Homo sapiens: one gene and its partners. Each later gene encodes a partner of the first gene's protein in a complex. Each region holds a gene or a part of one and is shown in the gene's direction. Other genes may lie near its edges.

Region 1 (3,500 bases):
AATTCAGAAAGATGAAATTAAATACTGAAATCTTAATAAGTAAAGAGAATTCAAGATTCCACAGGAAACCATTTGCTTGGAAGAAATACCAGAGTGGATTGTCACTTGATAGGAGGGCTTCTTTGTATACCATTGCTATATAGCAAATGGTCAAGGACATGGTTTACAGAGATCAAAGCAAAAGTGATCAACTTCCCTTATTTCTGAGGCTTGACTTTAGTTGAGAAAATTTGATAGATCCAGTTGAAAACTTAATATTACTTGATACATTTAAAGAGATGATAACTTTTGTATAAGGTAAATTCACTACTGTTGATTTTTTTTGTGTTTTTTTAGGACAAGAAGTTGAATACTTTGTGGCAGGTACACATCCATACCCACCAGGACCTGGTTAGTGAGCTGTTATATATTGAAAATGTCTTAAAAATGTCACATATATTTTCACTAACGAGCCAATAATGAGATTCTTGTTGCCTATAAAATGCAAGATAAGCTCAGTAGCCAAGCATCCATGCATAGCTTTGTAGGTAATAATGAATACTCATATGCCTTCATTCAGCAAACATTCTTAAGTACGTATAATTTTTCAGGCAATGTGCTAGGAATTCAAAGACAGTAAAACTGTTGCAGGCCTAGTTATTTATTATCTGGTGGTTTAGGCAGACATGTAAATATCACTAAGCTTGTAAAAATGATGGAAATGTTAGAAGCAGTATCTGAGAAACATGTCCTCTGTCTGTATTAAGGCATTGGTCCACAGATGGAGTGGCCAGTGTAACAGGGTAGAGGACAAAAGGCTTAGTATGTAAAGAAAGTACAGGGAAATTGGGTGTTTCTAGTTTTAGTAAGTTACATCCACTCTTGGAAACATTCTGTTAGTATTTGAGGAACTGCTTAATACTGACTTGAAACTAATACCCAAATATAATGGAAATTAACTTTACTATTCTGGGCTGCTTTAATACCATGTGGGCTGTGATCAAATCAAATTTGAGTTACGTGTTATTAAGCAGTATTTATTGTAGAAATTAAAAACAAAGATGAGCAAAACTTAATCAAATTTGTATAATATCACTGCCTGGAGATAATAAACATTTGGTGTATGTTTTCCTTCATCATTTTATTTTAAGTGCATGTAAATGAATAATACACAGCTACTAAAAGAAGTTGATTTTTCATTTTAATAGGGGTTGCTTTGACAGCAGATACTAAGATCCAGAGAATGCCAAGTGAATCAGCTGCACAGTCCTTAGCGGTGGCATTACCTTTGCAGACCAAGTATGAAATATTATAATTACAAAGATCTTAAAAGCATATTTCACTGTTCACATTTTTTCTTTTTAAAATTTCTTTATAACTATTATATGACATTTTCCTTTATCAGGACTTTATAACAATTTAAAATAAAGGGTTAGTTTTGCAGAATACATGACTGGAGGCATTAATTACTTTGAAAATATTATTTCTTTTGCCCCAGGGCTGATGCAAATCGTACTGCCCCTAGTGGAAGTGAATACCGACATCCTGGGGCTTCTGACCGTCCACAGCCTACAGCGATGAATTCAGTAAGTTTTTCTGCATCAAATAGCAGGTTTCTAACTTTTGGAACATGTTGCCATATTTCCCTCTTCTTTGGAATTATTAAGATAAATAGCAGCCTGAGCTAGTCATTCATATTTCATAGCCCTAAAACTCAAGTTGGTAGTAAATTAACGTATTTTTTGGAATTTAATTCTGTTATTTGTCTACTTGTACATTGTGTGTAATATATATTTTGATAAAGATAATGTGATGTTGGTATTTATTGCCCACTATTAAAAATGCAAGGAGAGTTTTTCTGAAACTTGTGTTAGTATGTATTGAATATGAAAGTCTTTTTTTTTTTATTAAATTTTAAGTTGGTGTGTACAGTTATCTTGAGTGCTGTTAGTGTTGTACTATTCATGGGCTATACAACTAGTCTTATAAATGAGCATTTAGAAATAAGTTTATCTGTTTGTAAGTAAATGGCAACTGGTATTAGTATGGTAGAAATAGTTGTTGAATTTTCTATAGTTATTTTATTGATTTATCTGCAGCATAATAAAATATGCTGCCACTTGAAATAAGTGCTGGTTTTGCTTCTCAGCTCATTATGCAATTGATTTGACTTTATGAAGTGAATGAATGTGTAACTGCCACATCTCCTTTCCTCCTTTATTCCATTCAGAGCACGTCTTCTGTCCAGGCTCTCTACCCTCCTTATGAGGGTATAATTTAAGCTTCTTGAGGGCAGGAACTTTATGGGCTTATTTATGTTTTGGATGACTAGATGACTGCTAACAACAGATGGTATATCAGGCAGTATACCTGTTAAAATAGTATTTAAATATTGTATTAGAAGATAAATAGAAGGAACTGTCAGTCTTTGCTATATTAAACCAATAATGTTAAAATATGACAATGAAAGACAGTGGCACTAATACACTTAAAATGACTTTAATATTGGGAGCTTACATGGAGCATTTACTACTTATTAAATCTTTGTAGTAACCCTATGAAATAGGCACTATTCTTCCCATTTTACAGGTGAGCCACATAGAGGTTACATGATTGTTACCTAATGTCAAACAGCTAGTAATTGGCCAAGCTGGGTTTTGAACCCGTACACAGTGATGTGTGCTCTTAAGTCTAATGCTCTGCCTGTCTGTGATTTTATAATTGCTTTTTTAAGTTAACATACAGAAAATTGTATTTCTTCATTTATGGAAAAATTCTTTTGTAAGTTCCCTCTTTCCATTTCCATTTCTGAATTGATATCATGAAGCCTTAGGTATGATGTCTTTAATAATAATAATGTCTCTTCTATGTCTAGATTGTCATGGAGACTGGCAATACCAAGAACTCTGCACTGATGGCTAAAAAAGCCCCTACAATGCCAAAACCCCAGTGGCACCCACCGTGGAAACTCTACAGGGTGAGTGACTCTGCATTTATTTTATTATGTGAACCATGATTGCTTTGTAGTTGACAAGCACTGAAGAATAGAATAAGGAGGAAAAAGAGTGAATATGAAAAGCTGGTAGAGCGATCTGAGGTGGATTGAGAAGAGTCGTAGGGAGTATCTTAAAAGATCTCTTGGGAAGGTGACTTCCTTAAGCAAAAGTTATACTTTTATATAAAATAGTATGAAATGTCAAGATAAAGCTACTAAATATGGATGGCAGACTAAATAAATGTAGAAAAAGTGTTCAAAGTATTTAGTTTGAAGGTGAAGGGGAAAAACACCATATAAAGAAATTTATTTGGGCCTACCAGTTACTCTTTCAACTACAATAAATGAAAATGATTCAGAGTGTATCATCTAAAAGAAAATGGACATGCATGCTAACTTCAGCAGCACATACACTAAAATTGGAATGGTACGGAGAAGATGAGCATGGCCCTTCCACAAGGATAACACAGATTCGTGAAGTGTTCCATACTGTTTATTTTGCATTGCTTGCCTATACCAAAATATC
Region 2 (3,500 bases), on another chromosome or scaffold:
AATTTGTCTTCATTTTTCTCAGTTGCTTTTTTCCACTTCTTGTTCTGATTTTATCCTAGATTTCTTCTCTTATTTCCCTTTGTCACCCTTGCTTTCTTTTTGTTATTCATCTTTCATCATCTTTTCTAGTTTTGTCTCTTTTCGGCCTGCTGCAAGGGAATATTTCCGGAACAGATATATAGTATCTGTTGGAAAAACCCATAAGATAATTACCCAGCCTCTCTTAATTGAAAGAGAAACGGGGCCGGGTGCGGTGGCTCATGCCTATAATCTCAGCACTTTGGGAGGCCGAGGCGGGCAGATCACGAGGTCAGGAGATTGAGACCATCCTGGCTAACATGGTGAAACCTCGTCTCTACTAAAAAAAATACAAAAAATTAGCTGGGCGTGGTGGCGGGCGCCTGTAGTCCCAGCTGCTCGGAAGGCTGAGGCAGGAGAATGGCGTGAACCCGGGAAGCGGAGCTTGCAGTGAGCCGAGATCGTGCCACTGCACTCCAGCCTGGGCAACAGAGCAAGACTCCGTCTCAAAAAAAAGAGAAACTGAGGCCCAATAAATAAGCAGTTTGCCTAGAGTCATGCAATTTCCCTGAGAAAGCTGGAATTAGAACTCTGCGTTCCTGATTCTCTGGTCCAAAGCTCTTTCCACTGTGAGTTCTCCTGCAATTTGTTTTCTGATTCTGCTTAGGATTTGGTGTTTGTTATTCATATGTCCTTTGTATTATCATATTAGTGTAACTCTCTTAAGACCTTATTTCCAAGGTAAAAAACAGTGGTTTCCTTGGTGCTTTGGAATACCATCCATGCTTCTAAGGTTGGAGAGGATGCCATTTATAATAAGCTTCCCTTCTTTTTTTTTTGAGACGGAATTTCGCTCTTGTTGCTCAGGCTGGAGTGCAAAATGGCACGATCTTGGCTCACTGGAACCTCCGCCTCCTAGGTTCAAGCAATTCTCTTGCCTCAGCCTCCCGAGTAGCTGGGATTACAGGCGTGAGCACCACGCCCAGCTAATTTTTGTATTTTTAGTAGAGACAGGGTTTCACCATGTTGGCCAGGCTGGTCTCGAACTTCTCATCTCAGGTGATTCACCTGCCTCGGCCTCCCAAAGTGCTGGGATTACAGGCGTGAGCCACCATGTCCGGCCAAGCTTCCCTTCTTAAAGCCCTCTGTTACTCACTCCACTCATCCCTTAAGGGAAAGTCTTAGCATACATGTTATAAGTGTAAGCAGCTAGGTAGTAGGTACTAGGGATTCCATGATTAAAGAGAGATAGCCCCTGAGCCCAGGAGCTCACTTTCAATCTAGAATAGAAGACAGACAGTTTCAACGCTGTTTGGTTAGTGTTACTATAGAAGATTTTCAAGATGTTTTGGGAGCACAAAGGAAGAGTAAGTTGAGCCTTAGGAGGATGTGAGTGATCAGGAAGTGCTTCCTAACGGATGAAATGTGGGAGCTGAGTTTTAAGGGATGTTGGTAACCAGCCAAGATAAGAAGGAAAGGAAGGATATTAAAGGAAGAGGGTCCTATATGTGCAGAGTCATAAGGCTATGAGACACCATGGTGTTACCAGGTGGTGGGGGTCCCTAAGTAATTTGCTGTTGTTGGATAGCATAAAGCGTGAGATGGATGAGAGAGGTTGGCAGACCGTGATCACAGAAGGCCCTGGAAGCCTATCTGAGGAGCTTGGTCTTCACCCTAGAGGTAAAGGGGAGACACGGAAGGATTAAAAACAGCTCTGCATTTTAGATAGACAAATCCATTATAGCAGTAATATGAAGGATTTGAAAGGTACAAGATTGGAAGTAGAACAGATACAAGGCTTTTGCAGTAGCTCAGGCTGAAAGTAATGAGTGTCTGAACTACGACTTGCAGGCAGTGGTAGTAAGGATGGTTAGTAAGAGAATAGGAAGTGGGGATGTGGTCAGGGGTGAGCTGGTGGGACCTGTTTGCTGATTTGGGGAAGAGGAAGGAGGAGTCATTGGATTTGGCAACAAGGAATGTCAGTGATGACCTGAAAGGGCTAGTTCCGTTGTGTAGTGAAACAATGGCCAGGTTCTAATGTATTAAGGAGTGAATGAAAAGTGAGGAAACAAATAGTGAATACAGGCTTTTTAAGAAGTTTAGATAAGAAGACCAAGAGAATGCATGGTAATTAAAGGGATTTGAGGTCCACTCACTACCTCCTTGAAATTCACCCCTGTATTGTTTTCCATGACACCCTACTCCTGGTTCTTTTCTCTGATCATTCTTGGCCACCTTTGCAAACTCCTCTTCCTCTGTGCACCTCTTAAGTCTTTCCCAGGGCTCCATCCATAATTTTTAGCTGTTCTCACTCTATGTGCTCCCTCTGGCTGATTCTTACCTAGTCATGTTTTCAACTATGACCTATATGTACATGATTTCCAAATCAGTATTTGCATCTTGGTCTGGTGTATTTAGCTGTTTGTTGGATTTCTCTATTGATTTAGACTTGAGAGATTTCAAATGCATTGTATTCAAAGCTGAACTCATCAGCTTCTACTGTAAGCCTGCTCCTACTCTTGTGCTCTCTAACTTGCCTCCTCCTTCTTTGTCCTTGTGTACCTAATCAATTAGTGCTGCTAATTAGTCTTACTAATTTTGCCTCCTGTGTCTTCTCTCTTCCGTCCCTCTTTATCATTGCCTTCATCATCTGTTGCCTGGACCATTGCAGTGATTTTCCTGCCCCAGATCCCCTCCAGAGTGATCTCTTTGAAATGCAGTTTAAGTTCTTGCTTTAAACCCATCGTTTCTGGATGAAATCTAAGCTTTTTACCATGGCCTACGCAGCTCATTATGCATTGGCCTCTGCGCCTTTCCAACTTTGACTCATGGCTGTTCCCTTTGTCATACTTCAGGTTCCAGCCATACCAGTTTGCCTTTGGTTTGCTGCACATACCAGGCCACTTCTTATTTCCGTGCCTTTGTTCTTGTTGCTCATTCTGTTCTGAAATGACCTCCAGACCCTTTCTGGCCCTTCCATCCCCAGTGCTGTAGTTAACACAGAGCCTTTACTGATCATTCTTGCCCAACCCTCATGTCACCTTTTTATCATACCTCCCCCAAGCTGATTAAGATACCCATTCTGTTTCCATGACACCCCATGCGTATTTCTACCAGAGTTTATGCTGTTCTTTTAATTTATTTGTTTAAATGTCTCTCTCTTCCACTAGTCTGGGAGTTCATCAGGACAGGTGCTGTGTCATACTCATTTTCATGTAGTGTCTACCATGGTACCTAGTATATAATGAAAATTCAATAAATGTTTGTGTAATGAATGGATAAAATATAAGATGTGGACATCAGCTGAGAGAGAACCAGGCTTTTAGAGTGGCAAACGTTTGAAATAGCTGTCAGAGTGGGGGAAGGGTGTGAACAAGGACTAAGAAAAGGATGAATGATATATTTTGTCCCTTTGATTCTATTGCATATGCCTTAAATATTTTCTTTTCTTTTTTGTTTCTTTCTTTCTTTTTTTTTTTTTT
Region 3 (3,500 bases), on another chromosome or scaffold:
GCTTAGGGGTTGTCCTTGCTTACTGGGTGCATGCATTCCAGGGAGATGCTGTAGCACCTGAGGCCAAGGCCCTTTTGCCCCGCTTGTCTGAGCCCAGAGCCCGGTCCCCAGTCGGTGCAGCATTCGCAGGTGAATGAATGGGTGAACCTCAGCACGTCATTGACGTCGGTGGAGGACACGGCGCTCCACCCTGGTGGCCGAGGGTGGGCTGCCTCCCCTCCTGTGATCAGCAGTGTGTGTGTGTGTGTGTGTGTGTGTGTGTGTGTGTCTCATTCAGCAAATATTTATTTATTTATTTTGTGTGTGTGTGTGTGTGTGTGTGTGTGTGTTATTGTTTATTTTTTATTTCTCCAAACCTCTTTTTTTTTTTATTGATCATTCTTGGGTGTTTCTCACAGAGGGGGATTTGGCAGGGTCATAGGACAATAGTGGAGGGAAGATCAGCAGATAAACAAGTGAACAGAGGTCTCTGGTTTTCCTAGGCAGAGGACCCTGCGGCCTTCTGCAGTGTTTGTGTCCCTGGGTACTTGAGATTAGGGAGTGGTGATGACTCTTAACTAGCATGCTGCCTTCAAGCATCTGTTTAACAAAGCACATCTTGCACCGCCCTTAATCCATTTAACCCTGAGTGAACACCGCACATGTTTCAGAGAGCACAGGGTTGGGGGTAAGGTCATAGATCAACAGCATCCCAAGGCAGAATTTTTCTTAGTACAGAACAAAATGGAGTCTCCTATGTCTACTTGTTTCTACACAGACACAGCAACAATCTGATTTCTGTATCTTTTCCCCACATTTCCCCCTTTTCTATTCGACAAAACCACCATCGTCATCATGGCCTGTTCTCAATGAGCTGTTGGGTACACCTCCCAGATGGGGTGGCAGCCGGGCAGAGGGGCTCCTCACTTCCCAGAAGGGGCGGCCGGGCAGAGGCGCCCCTACCTCCCGGACGGGGCGGCGGCCAGGCGGGGGCTGCCCCCCACCTCCCTCTTGGACGGGGCGGCTGGCCGGGCGGGGGCTGCCCCCCACCTCCCTCCCGGACGGGGCGGCTGCCGGGCGGAGACGCTCCTCACTTCCTAGACAGGGCGGCTGCCGGGCAGAGGGGCTCCTCGCTTCTCAGACGGGGCGGCTGCCGGGCGGAGGGGCTCCTCACTTCTCAGACGGGGCGGCCAGGCAGAGACACTCCTCACCTCCCAGATGGGGTTGCAGCCAGGCAGAGGCGCTCCTCACATCCCAGACGATGGGTGGCTGGGCAGAGACGCTCCTCACATCCCAGACAGGGTGGCGGCCGGGCAGAGGCTGCAATCTCGGCACTTTGGGAGGCCAAGGCAGGCGGCTGGGAGGTGGAGGTTGTAGCTAGCCGAGATCACGCCACTGCACTCCAGCCTGGGCAACATTGAGCACTGAGTGAACGAGACTCCGTCTGCAATCCCGGCACCTCGGGAGGCCGAGGCTGGCAGGTCACTCGCGGTTAGGAGCTGGAGACCAGCCTGGCCAACACAGCGAAACCCCGTCTCCACCCAAAAAATACGAAAACCAGTCAGGCGTGGCGGCGCGCGCCTGCAATCCCAGGCACTCGGCAGGCTGAGGCAGGAGAATCACGCAGGGAGGTTGCAGTGAGCCGAGATGGCAGCAGTACAGTCCAGCTTTGGCTCGGCATCAGAGGGAGACCCTGGGGAGCGGGAGCGGGAGAGGGAGAGGGAGGGACAGCAAATATTTATTGAGTGCCTGCCATGTGCAGAGAGCACAACAGGCTGTGTCTCTCCTGAATGAGAGGAGCATGCATTCTGGTGGGGGAGAACACCAGAGAGCAGCTCAGCAGGGTGTGCCAGAGGCTGCTTGTGTGTGTAGAGCACAGCAGGGGGAGGGGAGAGGGCCGCCCTGACCCGCTGCAGGGAGGGAGAGCCGTGTGGGCATCGGGGGAGTGCAGGGCCAGGCTGATGGCACAGCCAGTGCAAAGACCCTGAGGTGGGCGCACGCTCAAGGGTGTCTGTGCCCAGCTGGGAGTCCAATGTGGCTGGAACAGCGTGTGCTAGCGGTGGAAGCAGGGGATGTGGTGACAGAGGTCAGGGGTGGGGATGGTGTGCAGAGCAGTCCTGTGGGGCCTGGGAGCCACAGGAGGACTTGGGCTTCCGCTCCAAGATGAGAGCCACTGAGGGAGGAATGAGGTCCAGCCTTTTTTTTTCTTTTAAAACTTTGACCTGGCAGTCAGCTTCTTTTGTTGTGTTTCCTTTTTTCTTTTGAAATGAGGTCTCTGTCACCCAGGCTGGAATGCAGTGGCACAGTCTCAGCTCACTGCAACCTCTGCCTCCTGGGCTCAAGAGATCCTCCCACCTCAGCCTCCCAAGTAGCTGGGACTACAGGCACCACCACTGCACCCAGCTAGTTTTTGTGTTTTTTGTAGAGACGGGGTTTCACCATGTTGGCCAGGCTGGTCTCGAACTCCTGGGCTCAAGTGATCCACCTGCCTCAGCCTCCCAAAGTGCTGGGATTACAGGCGTGAGCCACTGCGCCCCACCTGTTTCTTTGTTAATTGGAATTCCCCGTGCGTGAAAGTGGAGTGAGGAGGTGTGATACGCCTCCCCTGTGCCCATCATCAACTCCAGCCCCTGCTGTCTCCCATCTGTGCAGTTCTGTCTTTGCTCCCACCAGTACCCCCTTGCATGATGCTGAAGCCCCAATTTAAAAAACAGTTTTCACATCAGAAGGATTTTTGTTTGTTTGTTTGTTTTTGAGACATGGTCTTGCCCTGTTGCCCAGGCTGGAGTGTAGTGGCATGATCAGAGCGCACTGTTGCTTCGACCTTCCAGGACCAAGTGCTCCTTCCACCTCAGTCTCCCAAGTAGATGGGACCACAGGCATGTACTACCATGCCCAGCCAATTTTTTTTTTTTTTTTTTTTGAGATGGAGTTTCGCTCTTGTTCCCCAGGCTGGAGTGCAATGGCGTGATCTCGGCTCACTGCAACCTCCGCCTCTTGGGTTCAAGCGATTCTCCTGGCTCAGCCTCCCGAGTGGCTGGGATTACAGGCATGTGCCACCACACCTGGCTAATTTTGTATTTTTAGTAGAGACGGGGTTTCTCCATGTTGGTCAGGCTGGTCTCAAACTCCCGACCTCAGGTGATCCTCCCGCCTCTGCCTCCGAAAGTGCTGGGATTACAGGTGTGAGCCACCGCGCCCAGCCCCAGCTACTTTTTTAATTTTTATTTTTGTAGAGATGAGGTTTCCCTATGTCACCCAGGCTGGTCTTGAAGTCCTGGGCTCAAGTGATCCTCCCGCGTCAGCATCCCCCCACCAAAAAAAAACAGCTGGGCACCATGGTTTACGCCTGCAATCTCAGCACTTTGGGAGGCCAAGGTGGGAGGATTGCTTGAGCCCAGGAGTTCAAGACCAGCCTGGGCAACATAATGAAACCTTGTCTCTACAAAATGAAACCTAAAAATTAGCCAGTGTGGTTGAGCACACCTGTAGTCCCAGCTACTTGGGAGGCTGAGGTGGGA
Region 4 (3,500 bases), on another chromosome or scaffold:
ACAACAATCAACAAAGACTTCTGTGACCAAGCAAGCAGTCAGTTCTGCAGTAGACACCAGCTGGGTGTCCTTCAGTTCTGACACTATCTACCTGGAGATAGCCTGAAAAACCACAGGTTGAGGGCTCGGTCCCACAAGACAGCCCCTGCACCCCCCACTATTATTCATAAGCACAGGCCTCCAGAACATCTGAATGGCTTCAAGCCAGGGTTCTCACGTCTCACTCCTTGGGTTCGATTAATTTGCTGGAGTAGCTCACACAACTCGGGAATCACATACTTAAATTTACTGGTTTATAACAGGATATTTTATAGGCTACAAATAAACAGCCACATGAAGAGATGCATAGGGTGAGATCTGGAAGGGTCGCAAGCACAAGAGCTTCTAGCCCCATGGAGTTTCCTCCCGGCACATGGATGAGTTCTTGTTCACCTTCCTGTCAGGCTGCGCATGATCAGCTGTCCCGAAGCTCCCCTAACCCTGCCCTCTTGGGCCTTTTATGGAGACTTTATTGGATAGTCATGATTAAAGGATGGACAACCATGTGGAAATGCCATTAGACAAAATGGGTGTGATCTAACACTAATAGACGGGGTTGGGAAACCCCGCGAGGCCTGTCCAGATTCTTTTTGGCCTCTCTCTGCAGCATTTGTTCCTCCAGGGTATAGGGCAGGACCTTTCTCTGGAGTGAGGTCTTATGACCCACAATCAGATTAGGGTCCTGCCTTGGGCAGGTGAAAGGAGGGCAGGAGAAGTTTCAAGAGAGAGATTCTGTCTCCTGAGTCCTGCTTCTGAGGCCTAAAGTGCCCCAATGTTATAACAAAAGACTATAACAAGGACTATAGGAGTTACGAGCTGGGAACCATAGATGAAAGCTCAAGTTTAAAGATGTAATAGTGTGAGGGGCCGGGCGCAGTGGCCCATGCCTGTAATCCTAGCACTTTGGGAGGCCGAGGTGGGCAGATCACGAGGTCAGGAGTTCGAGACCAGCCTGGCCAACACAGTGAAACCCCGTCTCTACTAAAAATACAAAAATTAGCTGGGCATGGTGGCAGGTCCCTGTAGTCCCAGCTACTCGGGAGGCTGAGGCAGGAGAATCGCTTGAACCCAGGAGGTGGAGGTTGCAGTGAGCCGAAATCGTGCCACTGCACTCCAGCCTAGGTGACAGAGCTAGACTCCATCTCAAAAAAAAAGAATATTTTATTTGTTCTTCAAAGCCTGTCTTCTCCTAGAACCCCTGGGTTACAGAGGAGAACAGCAGTCTTATCATGCTATTTATATGGAGTGTGTTTTCTTTTTGCTACTATGAAATAATTCTTTTTTTTTTTTTTTTTTTTTGGAGACTGAGTCTCCATCACCCAGGCTGCAGTGCGGTGGCTTGATCTCAGCTCACTGCCACCTCCTCCAACTCCCAGGTTCAAGTGATTCTCTTGCCTCAGCCTCCCAAGTAACTGGGATTACAGGCGCATACCACCACGTGCAGCTAATTTTTGTGTGTTCAGTAGAGAAGGGGTTTTGCCATGTTGGCCAGTCTGGTCTCAAACTTATGACCTCAAGTGATCTGCCTGCCTTGGACTCGCAAAGCCCTGGGGTTACAGACATGAGCCACTGCACCCAGCCTGAAATAATTATTTTCTCAGAAAAAAATACAAAAGATAATATAACCCTTCTCCCAGATCTAACACATGTTAACACTTAACTATATTTGTTTCAGAATTGAAAAAATTAATTCAGTGCATCTATAATGTTTTTCAGCTCACCCAAGGCCAGCCCCAAGGATTTGTCTTTTCTGTAGCTCTCAGACCACCTTCTTTGCCCTCAGCATGCTGCCTCCCAGCCTCTTGTAGAGAGCAGTGTGGGACTGGAAGGCAAGAGTGTGCTGCTAGCTCCTGCTTTGATGCCAGTCCCCAGCCCCTGCCCCTCCGTCTCCATCCCCCCTGTTAAATGCAGTGGCTGTCAGCTGGACGTGTTGGCTTATGCTTGTAATCCTGACACTTTGGGAGGCCGAGGTGGGTGGATCACCTGAGGTCAGGAGTTTAAGACCAGCCTGGCCAACATGGTGAAACCCTGTCTCTACTAAAAATACAGGAAATTAGCCGGGCGTTGTGGTTCACGGCTGTAGTCCCAGCTACTCAAGTAGGAGGCTGAGACATGAGAATCGCCTAATCCCAGGAGGTGGAGATTGCAGTGAGCCGAGATCATGCCACTGCACTCCAGCCTGGGTGACAGAGTGGGACTCCGTCTCAAAAAATAAAAAAAAAAAAAGGCGGGAGGTGGAAATGCAATGGCCAGGGTGGTGTTGGACCAGGTAACCCTTCAGAACCCTTCTAACTGGTGTCCTAGGGCCCTGGCTACTCTGTGCTATGAGCATTCACCGACCACACTGACCTGGCCTCATATTTTCTCTTCCCTTTCAGTGGCCGCAAGAGGAAGAGGACGTGGAATGGGACGTGGAAACATCTTTCAAAAGCGAAGATAATTTTCTAAGTTGAACAGAACTTTGTCCTTTTTTCTTTCAGGTTATCTGAGTTCATTGGAGTGGGTGCTTGTGCATATATGCTAGGTATCTTTTGCCATCTTTCTCTTTAGATCAGGGGAAATGTTTAAGCTAAATAAATCTGGGGGGTTTTTTGTTCTGTTTTGTTTTGTTTTCTTTGAGAAAATAAGGACTTTGTGTTCATTTGAAGTTTGCTTTGGCTAAATTTTGACACCCTGGGGGATGTCCTGGGAGAATGCCAGTACTTTGAAATAGCACAGCTATTGATGAGATTTTAAGCTGCTGTTCCTGGCCAGTTGCAGGTTAAGCCCCAGAAAAGTTCACCTTGGAGAAGCTCCGAGAACACACAGATTGTGTCTCATTCATCTTCAGACACAGGCACATAGTGTGGCACTTTGTTCAGTTAACATTTGTGGAGCTGTCATCAGCTCAGCTTTAACAACACAGGTGACTCTTTCCCTTGATAAAGTCATAGGTAATTCAGGGGCTGGGTGCGGCGGCTCACGCATGTAATCCCAGCACTTTGGGAGGCCAAGGCGGGCGGATCACGAGGTCAGGAGTTCGAGACCAGCCTGGCCAATATGGTGAAACCTCGTGTGTACTAAAAATAAAAAAATTAGCCGGGTGCGGTGGCATGTACCTGTAGTCCCAGCTACTCGGGAGGCTGAGGCAGAAGATTCGCTTGAACCCAGGAGGTGGACATTGCAGTGAGCAGAGATCATGCCACTGTACTCCAGCTTGGGTGACAGAGCGAGACTGCACCTCAAAAAAAAAAAAGTAATTCAGGGGATCCTAGTGGCCAGCTTCCTTGGCTCGTATACTGGCTACAACAAGTAGTTTTGTGGTGATTTGTGGAAACAGATTCTTGGGAGCATATCAGAGCATCTCAGCATTGATTGGCACATCCATAGTTGTTAATGTAGGAAGGGTGACCAGCAGCTCAGCACAGTGGCTTGCTTCCAGCACTCTGGGAGGCTGAGGTAGAGGATTGTTTGAGAGGAGT
Region 5 (3,500 bases), on another chromosome or scaffold:
TAGGCACACCATCTCCAAATACCTTCCCACCACCTAATTCCTGCACCCCTTATGTGGCTTTGTGATCTCCCTGTGTCTTCTCACTGGACAGGGACAGAGCCCTTGTAATTCATAAACTGGACTTTTTATGGTGTGAAACTAGGTAGGGTAAGCTGTTTTCCAAAGGCCTGGTCTTGTCAAGTAAAGTCACACTTAGATTCCCCAATACCCCAATAGAATTTTGAGACTCTTGAAGTTCCTTTTTTTTTTTTTTTTTTTTTTTAAACCTTTTTTCTTTTTTTTGAAACGGGGTCTTGCCCTGTCACCGAGGCTGGAGTGCAATGATGCGATCTCGGCTCACTGCAACCTCCGCCTCCTGAGTAGCTGGGATTACAGGCGCACACCACCACGCCTGGCTAATTTTTTGTACCTTTAGTAGAGACGGGGTTTCACCATGTTGGCCAGGGTGGTCTCGAACCCCTGACCTTGTGATCCACCTGCTTTGGCCTCCCAGAGAGCTGGAATTACAGGCGTGAGCCACCATGCCCAGCCTTCTTTTTATTTGTTTTGTTTTATTTTTTATTTTTATTTATTTATTTTTGAGATGGAGTCTCACTCTGTTGCCAGGCTGGAGTGTGGTGGTGCGATCTCAGCTCACTACAACCTGTGCCTCCCTGGTGGAGGAATCAAGCGATTCTCCTGCCTCAGCCTCCTGAGTAGCTGGGACTACAGGCCTGCAGTACCACACTCGGCTAATTTTTTGTATTTTTAGTAGAGGAGATTTCATCATGTTGGCCAGGATGGTCTTGATCTCTTGACCTTGTGATCTGCCCGCCTTGGCCTCCCAAAGTGTTGGGATTATAGGCATGAGCCACTACGCCTGGCCGTTTTTACTTTTTAAAATTCATTTATTTATTTTTTTGAAACAGAGTTTTGCACTTGTTGCTCAGGCTGAAGTGCAGTGGCGTGATCTTGGCTCACTGCAACTTCCACCTCCCGAGTTCAAGCGATTCTCCTGCCTCAGCCTCCAGAGTAGCTGGGATTACAGGCATGAGCCACCTCGCCTGGCTAATTTTGTATTTTTAGTAGAGATGGGGTTTCTCCATGTTGGTCAGGCTGGTCTTGAACTCCTGACCTCAGGTGATCCACCTGCCTCGGCCTCCCAAAGTGCTGGGATTATAGGCGTGAGTCACCACGTGCCCGGCCAACTTTTGGAGTTCTAAGAATGGCCTACTGGTTCCCAGGTCTCTCCTGACCAATTTATCTCATATCTCTTCCTGAAATTGACTGTGGTTAGGCTTCTGGGACATCTCAGTGCAGTTGTGGTGGTAGTGGTGTTACTGTTTTGGCCTGAATTTAATTTTTCGGGTTTTTTTTGAGACAGAATCTCATTCTGTCGCCCAGGCTGGAGTGCAGTGGCATGATCTCGGCTCACTGCAACCTCCGCCTCCCGGGTTCAAGTGATTCTCCTGCCTCAACCTCCCGAGCAGCTGGGACTACAGACATGCACTAGCATGCCTGGCTGATTTTTGTATGTTTAGTAGAGATAGGGTTTCACCATGTTGGCCAGTCTGATCTCAAACTCCTGACCTTTGGCGATCCACCCCCCTCGGTCTCCCAAAATGTTAAGATTACAGGCGTGAGCCACTGTGCCCAGCTGTAATTTTTCTTTTTCGATTACAAAAATATTTAAGCACATAGGGAAGTTGAAAGAATAGAACAAAGAACACTCATAGACACTATTCAGATTGAAAAATGGTTAATACTATGGGTAGTATTTGCATTGTAATTGTAAATGTGGTATGTTTTTTCTTTTCAGACCATTTAAAAGAGTCTTAGACATCATGGCGTTTTATCTCTAAGTACATCAGTGTGTACCTGCTAAGGATAAAGATATTGTCCTCTAAAATCAGAATGCTCTTGTCACAGTCAGGAAGTTGAACAGTAATTCTTATGTATCGACTAAGATCTCTCTACAATAAAAGATACCCTCATTACCCTCAAAATAACTTTAATGACTGCTTTTTCCTAACAAGAATGCAGTCAAGGTTCATGCATTGCATTTGGGTCTTAGATGTTAAGTTTGTTTCTCTCTCTGTCTGTCTCACCTTGCAGTGTCCTACATTCTGGATTTGCCTGATTCTTATCTTGTGGTGTTAAGTACTTCTCTGCCCTGTGCTTTCTTTGAAGCAGGAATTGGGTCTAAAGCTTATTGACACTCAGATTAAACAGTTGTGGCAGGAACACTTCTTGGGCGGTGATGTGCACTTCATATTATGTCATATCACGGGGACATACTATCCAGTTGTGTATCTATATATTAGTATTAATATCCTTTCTACCAATAGCCTTTCATCAAATGCTTTTAGAAGCCACTGGTAATCCTTTCCTGAACATGTTATTTTTATTGGGGATTGCAAAATGGTGATTTTTTTTTTTTTTTTTTGAGACAGAGTCTCGCTCTGTCGCCCAGGCTGGAGTGCAACGGTGCGATCTCGGCTCACTGCAAGCTCTGCCTTCCGGGTTCATGCCATTCTCCTGCCTCAGCCTCCTGAGCAGCTAGAACTACAGGCGCCTGCTGCCACGCCCGGCTAATTTTTTGTATTTTTAGTAGAGATGGGGTCTCACCATGTTAGCCAGGATGGTCTCGATCTCCTGACTTCGTGATCCTCTTGCCTCAGCCTCCCAAAGTGCTGGGATTACAGGCGTGAGCCACCGCGCCCGGCCGAAATGGTGATTTTTTGATTCTGTCATTCCTGTTACGTGTATTGGCTAGAATTTGTCTATAAAGAAGAGCTTTTCCTCAACAACTAGGAACAAGCTACAGTTCCTTCTTAAAAAGGGTAAATGTTTGTTTCCTTTTAAATACGAATTTTTAGAGTAAGGCGTTTGCTGTAACAGTCATTTCACTGGTGACAGATTTTTTTCCCTTGTTTTTTGTTTGTGTGTGTCAAATTGGACTCATGAATTTTTATTTTTCAGTATTTTATAATCTCACATCATTATTCTTTTTAATGCTCAAATGGCTCTGATTTTTTGCCCATATTAAAAAAAAAATCTATCTGGCTCTTCCATGGAAGGAATATTTGACTGTGGTACCCAGATTAGGTCATGATCATAAACTGCATTTTAAGTCTTTACAGAACAAACAAGAAAAGCCAAACAACTAAATAGAACCAGGCCCCTTAAGGGTAGAACAGCAGAGGGGCTTTTTTTTTAAAGATGCAGTTTTGTTCTTGTTGCTCAGGCTGGAGTGCAATGGCGTGAGCTAAGCTCACTGCAACCTCCGTCTCCCGGGTTCAAATGATTCTCCTGCCTCAGCCTCCCGAGTAGCTGGGATTACAGGTGCCCACTACCATGCCCAGCTAATTTTTGTATTTTCAGTAGAGACGGGATTTCACCATGTTGGCCAGGCTGGTCTCTAACTCCTGACCTTAGGTGATCCACCCACCTCAGCCTTTCAAAGTGCTGGGATTACAGGTGTGAGTCACCACGCCCACCCAGCCACCAGAGGGGCTTTG
Region 6 (3,500 bases), on another chromosome or scaffold:
AAGTGACGCAGAAGCTGAAGCCGTGAGAGAAGTCTATGAAAGGGCCATTGCCAATGTCCCACCCATTCAGGAGAAGAGGCACTGGAAGCGCTACATTTATCTTTGGATCAACTATGCACTCTATGAAGAATTGGAGGCAAAGGTGAAAAAACAGAATTATGTGTCAGCTGATAATGGTTTCCTGTCTTCTGTATTCACAGCTCACCTATTGTGGATGTTTGTAATTCTTGAAAGAAGGAAATTTAGTTTTAAATTTTTATAGGCTTCTGTTCATCCATACAGTTATATATTCGCTCTGCAACATTTTAAACCCTCTGTGCTTGTTGTGGCCACACGTGAGGGGCTTTTTTAACTTTGGTTTGATTTTTACTTGAGGCACAACAAGATATCACTTGGAGCTTGAAAGAGAACAGTGAACCAGCCCTTAATTTAGTGAAATATAGTTTCCTGGATTTGCTCATTAATAGGAGTAATTCTGGCTAGATTATGCATTTTTGCTTTTAGCAAAAATCAAGTGGCATTTTCAGAAATCATTTGTATTAACCTTCTGGGTTTGATCTGAGACTATGAAACATCTTTGTTTCTTTCTGCCATCAGGCAAAACGGCTTTCTACAAAGAAGGGCTTAGAAGTTTGGTGGCTATCTTGTTGGTGATTCTTAAACTGAAGTTTCATGGCCGTTCATACTTTAGATCATAAATCAGGGTTTGCAAGTAACAACTTGTGAAACATGCTGTTTTGGGGGTGTACATTTTTACCAATATCAGTAAAATTAGTAACTAGTAAAATGAGTGTTAGCAGCAGACTTCAATATTTTGTGAAAATTTCTTATCCTAATACAGGATCCTGAGAGGACAAGACAGGTGTATCAAGCCTCTTTGGAACTAATTCCTCACAAAAAGGTATGTTTGCTCTAAAGTGTTCCATTTCAAACAGGTCAGAATCCTCTTCTGTTACTTGTGAAGTAATTCAGTGAAATAATATTGATTGATAAAATGCTTCCCTGTCCCACCATGGACAACATAAATAAGACTGAGATATGCTCCTTGCCTCTGAAAACAGCTCACAGACTAGGTTGGAGGACAACCTGCATTGACAAACAAATAATATAAATTCAGAGAAGGCTAGGTAATGTGAATAGTCTGAGTGGAAGGAGAAAGACATCCATGCAGAGAGCACACAACGTGTGCGGGGGACACACAGGCGGGTTTGTTGGTAACAGTGAGTGTGTGCATGCACAGATGAATGTGCCCCTTGTGTAGATGGTTGAGATGTTACCTCCGCCTTGTTTCCCAGCACGAGAAACAAAACGTGTTTCCTTCTGTAGAAGTGTTGACTGAGTTACTTTTCAGAATAGAGGTAGGACATTCTGCCCATATACAAGCATGCCTACAAAACAAAGTCTGTTCTGAGCAGAGGCTACCGTGCCATACAGTACAGTACAGTATCTGGATCATGGTTCTCAGGAGAGGTTACCATGCCATGCAGTACAATATAGTATCTGGATCATGGTATGTGGGTTTCTAACTTTTGTGAAATGAATGTGGTCTTTGCTTGTAAATAAGCAGAGTACATTCCTCTTACTCTGAAGTTTTAGAGAAATCGAATTACCAATGGCTTTGGTTAATTTAAATTAATTTTAATTCAATTTAATTTGGATGAGGCTTTTAAGCTAGATATTTTTGTGCTTTTGTTTTCTAGTTCACATTTGCCAAAATGTGGATACTGTATGCACAGTTTGAAATACGACAGAAGAATCTGTCATTAGCCAGAAGAGCATTGGTAAGTAAAGAAAGGATCAAGATGTCTCATCAAGTTCTATGAGAAAGAAATTAAAATCTTGGTGCTTGGAAGTTGTACAGTTCCTACTTTAAAGAGTGACAGAAGTATTATACCTTTATAGCCTGGGACATGTTAGAAAACATGCGTCCTCTGTAAAAACACTGACTAATAATGCGTAAATTATTCTTATTACCTGGGGCAAATTAACATTCTGTTTCAATATTGGAAACTTCTATAGCTACCAGTTACTAAATCTTTCCACAGACTGGAATTAGTAATCTGATCCTGTGCAAACTTTTTGGTGTGTTAAATGCACTTTTAATTGTTCCACTTTTTTTTTCTTTTTTTTTTTTTTGTTTGTTTGGTTTTTTTTTGAGACAGGGTCTCGCTCTGTTCCCCAAGCTGGAATGCAGTAGCGCGATCTTGGCTCACTGCAACCTCTGCCTCCTGGGCGGAAATGATCCTCCCATGTTGGCCTCTCAGAATGCTGGGATTACAGGCATGAGCCACCATGCCTTGTCCTTTTTATTTATAGGAGGTTTTATGCATTTGACATCCCTATTCCCTAGGAGATCCTGAGAAACTTTCAAATCTTATTTTATTTAGTTGCCCAAACAATTCTGGAACACTGCCTCTTGCTGAGTGAATTAGAGGAGTTTCCTTCAGCCTTTTGTCAAGAACCAGTAAACATTGTGATACCACAGAGGGAAAGAATGGTAGGCCATGTTGACTTTGCAAGATTCTTCCTCAGCAGAGAACAGCCTCTAGGGCAGTGCAATAACTGCACAGATTAAATCCACTACAGTATCACAGTGGTCTGGTTATTTTATTTTCCAGGGAACTTCCATAGGCAAATGTCCAAAGAACAAATTATTTAAAGTTTACATAGAATTGGAGCTACAGCTTCGAGAATTTGACAGATGCCGGAAGCTTTATGAAAAGTTCCTGGAATTTGGACCTGAAAATTGTACCTCATGGATTAAATTCGCTGAATTAGAGACAATCCTTGGTGATATTGACAGAGCACGGGCAATCTATGAATTAGCCATCAGTCAGCCACGTTTAGACATGCCAGAGGTGAGCATCTCAAGTCAAATATAATTTTGTTTGAGATACGTGTTTAGTCTTACTTTAGATGACCATCTAAATGTGGGTGTATTTTAGAGTATAACGATGATCTAACTAACTTAGTCTCTTCTACTCAGATTAGGCTTGTACGTGGAAAGGTGGCTGTGGGGGACAGGGGAAGTAGCCCTCTCATTAGATACCAGAGCAGTAGACATCCAGGATGATGCCCAGGATGAACTGGGATATCATGGGGGTGGGTGACGCCCCTTCTGCAGCAGGAAAGCCTAAAGGGGCTGGGGAAGAGGCCAGGCAAGGAAGAAGCCAGCAGGCTGGCCCACCCGGAGAACGAGGGGGATGGAGGTAGGAACTGCACATCCCTGTATTCTCTAAACCAGGATGTCCTTGCAACTTCTGTTGTCACTGTCCTGAAAGTCCTCGCCTGCCTTCAGTAGTTAAGCTTGACCCACAAGGTAGCACCAAACCACAGCTAGGAAAGATTTGAATCTCACATGAGTCGTAGAACTCACCCAGCCGTTTTGTTAATCTCATGCACTAACATGACCCTGCATTTAATGGTTTGGCCCCCTGATTGCATTAATTAAGGCAGGGCTTTGGGTATCACTGAGTTCATCAGTTGTCCTCGGCTCCTCC
Region 7 (3,500 bases), on another chromosome or scaffold:
GTTAGCCAAGCGGTCTCGATCTCCTGACCTCATGATCCGCCTGCCTGGGCCTCCCTAAGTGCTGGGATTACAGGCGTGAGCCACGGTGCCTGGCCCAAAATCTTTTATCTACTGTGTTTTCTCTGCTTTTCTTTGTTCCTCTGGGTAGTTATCATTTTTGTTCCTTTTCTATCATAAATACTATTTCAGAAGAAATTGAAGGTAAGTGTGGTCAATTTGGCCCATTTTAACGTGTTCTAGACTTACAGTTTTTGTGTGTACACATTTAAAATAGTACGGTTTAAAATAACTGAAATTGGCCAGGTGCGGTGGCTCATGCCTGTAATCCCAGTACTTTGGGAGGCAGAGGCGGGCAGATCGCCTGAACTCGGAAGTTCGAGACCAGCCCGGGCAACATGGCATGAACTTTGTCTCTACTAAAAATACAAAAATTAACCAGGCATGGTGGCAGATGCCTGTAATCCCAGCTACTCGGGTGGCTGAGGCAGGAGAATTTCTTGAACCCAGAAAATGGAGGCTCCGGTGAGCCGAGATTACGCCACTGCACTCCAGCCTGGGTGACAGAGTAAAACCCTGTCGCCAAAAAAAAAAAAAAAAAAAAAGGAAACTACAACAAATTAAATAATGAAAATGAGTCTTCGTTTCAAGTTTGTCATAGTCTAGTGTTAGGGAGTTATTTAAAAATTATTGGTTTGGGCCAGGTGTGGTGGCTCACGCCTGTAATCCCAGCACTTTCAGAGGCTGAGGCAGCTGGATCACAAGGTCAGGAGTTCAACACCAGCCTGGCCAATGGTGAAACCCCATTTCTACTGAAAATACAAAAATTAGCCAGGTGTGGTGGCGGTCACCTATAATCCCAGCTACTCGGGAGGCTAAGGCAGGGAATTGCTCGAACCTGGGAGGCAGAGGTTGTAGTGACCCGAGATCGCACTACTGCACTCCAGCCTGGACAACAGAGAGAGACTTGGTCTCAAAAAAAAAAAAAAAATTGTTTTGTTTGTTGTTTGTTTGGTAAGAGACAAGATCTCACTGTGTTGCTCAGGCTGCAGTGAAGTGGCATGATCATAGCTCACTGCAGCCTCAAACCCCTGGCTTCAGGCTGTCTTCTGCGTTGGCCTCCCAAATGTTTGGATTTTTTTTTTTTTTGAATAAACATTTATTTTCTTTCTTTAAAAAAAAAAAAAAGAAGCAGCAGCTGGGCGCGGTGGCTCACGCCTGTAACCCCAGCACTTTGGAAGGCCGAGGCAGGTGGATCACCAGCCTGGCCAACAGAGTAAAACCCCATCTCTACTAAAAATACAAAAAAGTAGCTGGGCGTGGTGGTGGGCGCCTGCAGTCCCAGCTACTCGGGAGGCTGAGGCAGGAGAATCGCTTGAACCCGAGAGGCGGAGATTGCAGTGAGCAGTTGTTTTCTTAATTTATCTTTCTTTTTTACAGATATGCACCACCAAACCTGGCTAATTTTTTATTTTTTATTTTTTTGTAAAGACAGGGTCTCCCTATGTTGTCCAGGATAGTCTTGAACTCTTGGTCTCAAACAATCCTCCTGCTGTGGCCTCCCAAAGTGCTGGGATTATAGGTGTGAGCCACCATCATACCTGGTCCATTTTCTTTTCTTGGGTTTTTTTTTTTTTTTTTTTTTTTGAGACAGAGTCATGCTCTGTTGCCCAGGCTGGAGTGCCATGGCGCGATCTCCACTCATTACAACCTCTGCCTCCCAGGTTCAAGCAGTTCTCCTGCCTCAACCTCCCAAGTAGCTGGGATTACAGGTGCCCAGCCCTTTTGTTGTTGTTGTTGTTGTTGTTTTACAACACCCCTCCAACTCTGTTTTTCCCATTTTCTTTATTTTTTTAAACACTTCATTTTGAAATAATTTTAGACACAAAAAGTTGCAAAAATAGTACAAGGAATTCCCATACACTTTTCACCAAGATTGTCTAAATGTTAAAATGTCATATAACTACAAAAAATTAGAAATTTTACATTGATGTGTCACTACTGTATTATCTAGAGACCTTTCTCACATTTCTCTGATTGTCCCTTTAATGTCCTTTTCCTGGTCCAAGATCCAATCCAGTACAACAGGTTGCATTTACTTGTACGTTTCCTTAGTTTCCTTTAATGCGTATCAGCTGGTTCTCCTCAGTTTTCCTTTTGTGACCTTGATACTTTGTAAGAGTACGGGCCAGTTATTTTGTGAAATGTCCCTTAATTAGCATCTTAAACTTACTATTTATTGCTTAGAATGGTAAGACTAGAATCAGTGTGTACAAATTTCTAATGTGGCCAGGTGCGGTGGCTCACACCTGTAATCCCACCACTTTGGGAGGCTGAGGCTGGAGGATTGCTTTGGCCCAAGAGTTTGAGAGCAGCTTGGGCAACAAAGGGAGACCTCATCTCTACAAAAATTTTAAAAATTAGCCAGACATGATGGTTTGTACCTGTAGTCCCAGCTACTCAGGAGGCTTAGATGGGAGGATCACTTGAGCCCAGGAGTTCAAGGCTGCAGTGAGGTGTAATTACACTCCAGATGGGACTACAGAGTGAGACCCTGTATTTAAAAAACAAAAACAAAAACATTTAGAATGTGACTGACTTCTATGTCAAGATTTTCTAATATTCTTAGCTGTCTGAAGATGAAATAAGTTTATTTGGGTCATGAATTCCCTATCACCATGATACTCAACTAGAGTTAGGATGACCCAGTAGGGATATTACTATTTGGATTAAAGCACTAGATTATGTGTAGGTCAAATGAGTTTTAATTTTCTGAAGAGTTAATAAGATTGTGATTTGATGTAATACATTTAAACTTTCCTGGTTTTGAATTAACTTGCTTGGATTTTATTCAGTTACCAAAACTCTGGCATCAAGGTGATCATGTTTTATTCTGTGATATATATCTTCCCTTTTTTTGTGAGGTTCAAATCATTTTATGGTGAATTTGAGACATGATATAAAGAAAAAGTATTTTTAAATTTGACACATTTCTTAGTAAATAAATTGAAATGAAACAAATAATAATCTCCCTAGGCCTTTAGTTATTGGTTCTGCATGATAATGTGTTGGGGGGTGGAGGGAATCTGAAGTCTAACACATTTAACAGAAGCTAGTTAAACTTTATTTACTGTAGCTACTAATAAAGAGCTATAAACAGGGAAAGGTGTGTGTGTAAATGTTGTTTGTGGTGTCTAGGTAACATTGGTGCAGGAGAGAATTGAACTTGGTTTGTTTTTCTTTTCCTTCAGTTGCAGGAAGAGGCAGAGGAAGAGGAAGAGGAAGAGGACGTGGCCGTGGCAGAGGAAGAGGGGGTCCTAGGCGATAATGTCTCTCAAGATTTCAAAGTCATATGAGATTTGGGATATTTTTTGTACAGGTTGTGTTTGTTTATGTCAGTTTTTAATAAACATAAATGTGGGACAGAGCTGTCTATTTAGTATATCAAAGTTTTAGTAGTTTCCTCCACATTCACGAAATTACCACAGTGAGAGCTAAGCATT

The links.
Region 2: PLRG1 (region 1) and BUD13 share a complex: the UniProt entries of both Homo sapiens proteins name them as parts of the minor spliceosome.
Region 3: PLRG1 (region 1) and PPIL2 share a complex: the UniProt entries of both Homo sapiens proteins name them as parts of the minor spliceosome.
Region 4: PLRG1 (region 1) and SNRPD3 share a complex: the UniProt entries of both Homo sapiens proteins name them as parts of the minor spliceosome.
Region 5: PLRG1 (region 1) and DHX16 share a complex: the UniProt entries of both Homo sapiens proteins name them as parts of the minor spliceosome.
Region 6: PLRG1 (region 1) and CRNKL1 share a complex: the UniProt entries of both Homo sapiens proteins name them as parts of the minor spliceosome.
Region 7: PLRG1 (region 1) and SNRPD1 share a complex: the UniProt entries of both Homo sapiens proteins name them as parts of the minor spliceosome.

Annotation. Positions count from the first base shown.
Region 1 is NC_000004.12:154,543,901-154,547,400, reverse strand, and holds part of PLRG1 (pleiotropic regulator 1), read left to right. Parts: intron 1-336; coding exon 337-390; intron 391-1,187; coding exon 1,188-1,278; intron 1,279-1,477; coding exon 1,478-1,565; intron 1,566-2,854; coding exon 2,855-2,956; intron 2,957-3,500. UniProt on the Homo sapiens protein: Involved in pre-mRNA splicing as component of the spliceosome. Component of the PRP19-CDC5L complex that forms an integral part of the spliceosome and is required for activating pre-mRNA splicing.
Region 2 is NC_000011.10:116,748,988-116,752,487, reverse strand, and holds part of BUD13 (BUD13 homolog), read left to right. Parts: intron 1-3,500. UniProt on the Homo sapiens protein: Involved in pre-mRNA splicing as component of the activated spliceosome. As a component of the minor spliceosome, involved in the splicing of U12-type introns in pre-mRNAs.
Region 3 is NC_000022.11:21,676,012-21,679,511, forward strand, and holds part of PPIL2 (RING-type E3 ubiquitin-protein ligase PPIL2), read left to right. Parts: intron 1-3,500. UniProt on the Homo sapiens protein: Has a ubiquitin-protein ligase activity acting as an E3 ubiquitin protein ligase or as an ubiquitin-ubiquitin ligase promoting elongation of ubiquitin chains on substrates.
Region 4 is NC_000022.11:24,569,499-24,572,998, forward strand, and holds part of SNRPD3 (small nuclear ribonucleoprotein Sm D3), read left to right. Parts: intron 1-2,417; coding exon 2,418-2,479; 3' UTR 2,480-3,500. UniProt on the Homo sapiens protein: Plays a role in pre-mRNA splicing as a core component of the spliceosomal U1, U2, U4 and U5 small nuclear ribonucleoproteins (snRNPs), the building blocks of the spliceosome.
Region 5 is NC_000006.12:30,666,507-30,670,006, reverse strand, and holds part of DHX16 (pre-mRNA-splicing factor ATP-dependent RNA helicase DHX16), read left to right. Parts: intron 1-2,679; exon of another isoform or gene 2,680-2,822; intron 2,823-3,193; exon of another isoform or gene 3,194-3,500. UniProt on the Homo sapiens protein: Required for pre-mRNA splicing as a component of the spliceosome. Contributes to pre-mRNA splicing after spliceosome formation and prior to the first transesterification reaction.
Region 6 is NC_000020.11:20,038,967-20,042,466, reverse strand, and holds part of CRNKL1 (crooked neck-like protein 1), read left to right. Parts: coding exon 1-142; intron 143-841; coding exon 842-901; intron 902-1,700; coding exon 1,701-1,781; intron 1,782-2,618; coding exon 2,619-2,858; intron 2,859-3,500. UniProt on the Homo sapiens protein: Involved in pre-mRNA splicing process. As a component of the minor spliceosome, involved in the splicing of U12-type introns in pre-mRNAs.
Region 7 is NC_000018.10:21,625,814-21,629,313, forward strand, and holds part of SNRPD1 (small nuclear ribonucleoprotein Sm D1), read left to right. Parts: intron 1-3,248; coding exon 3,249-3,325; 3' UTR 3,326-3,500. UniProt on the Homo sapiens protein: Plays a role in pre-mRNA splicing as a core component of the spliceosomal U1, U2, U4 and U5 small nuclear ribonucleoproteins (snRNPs), the building blocks of the spliceosome.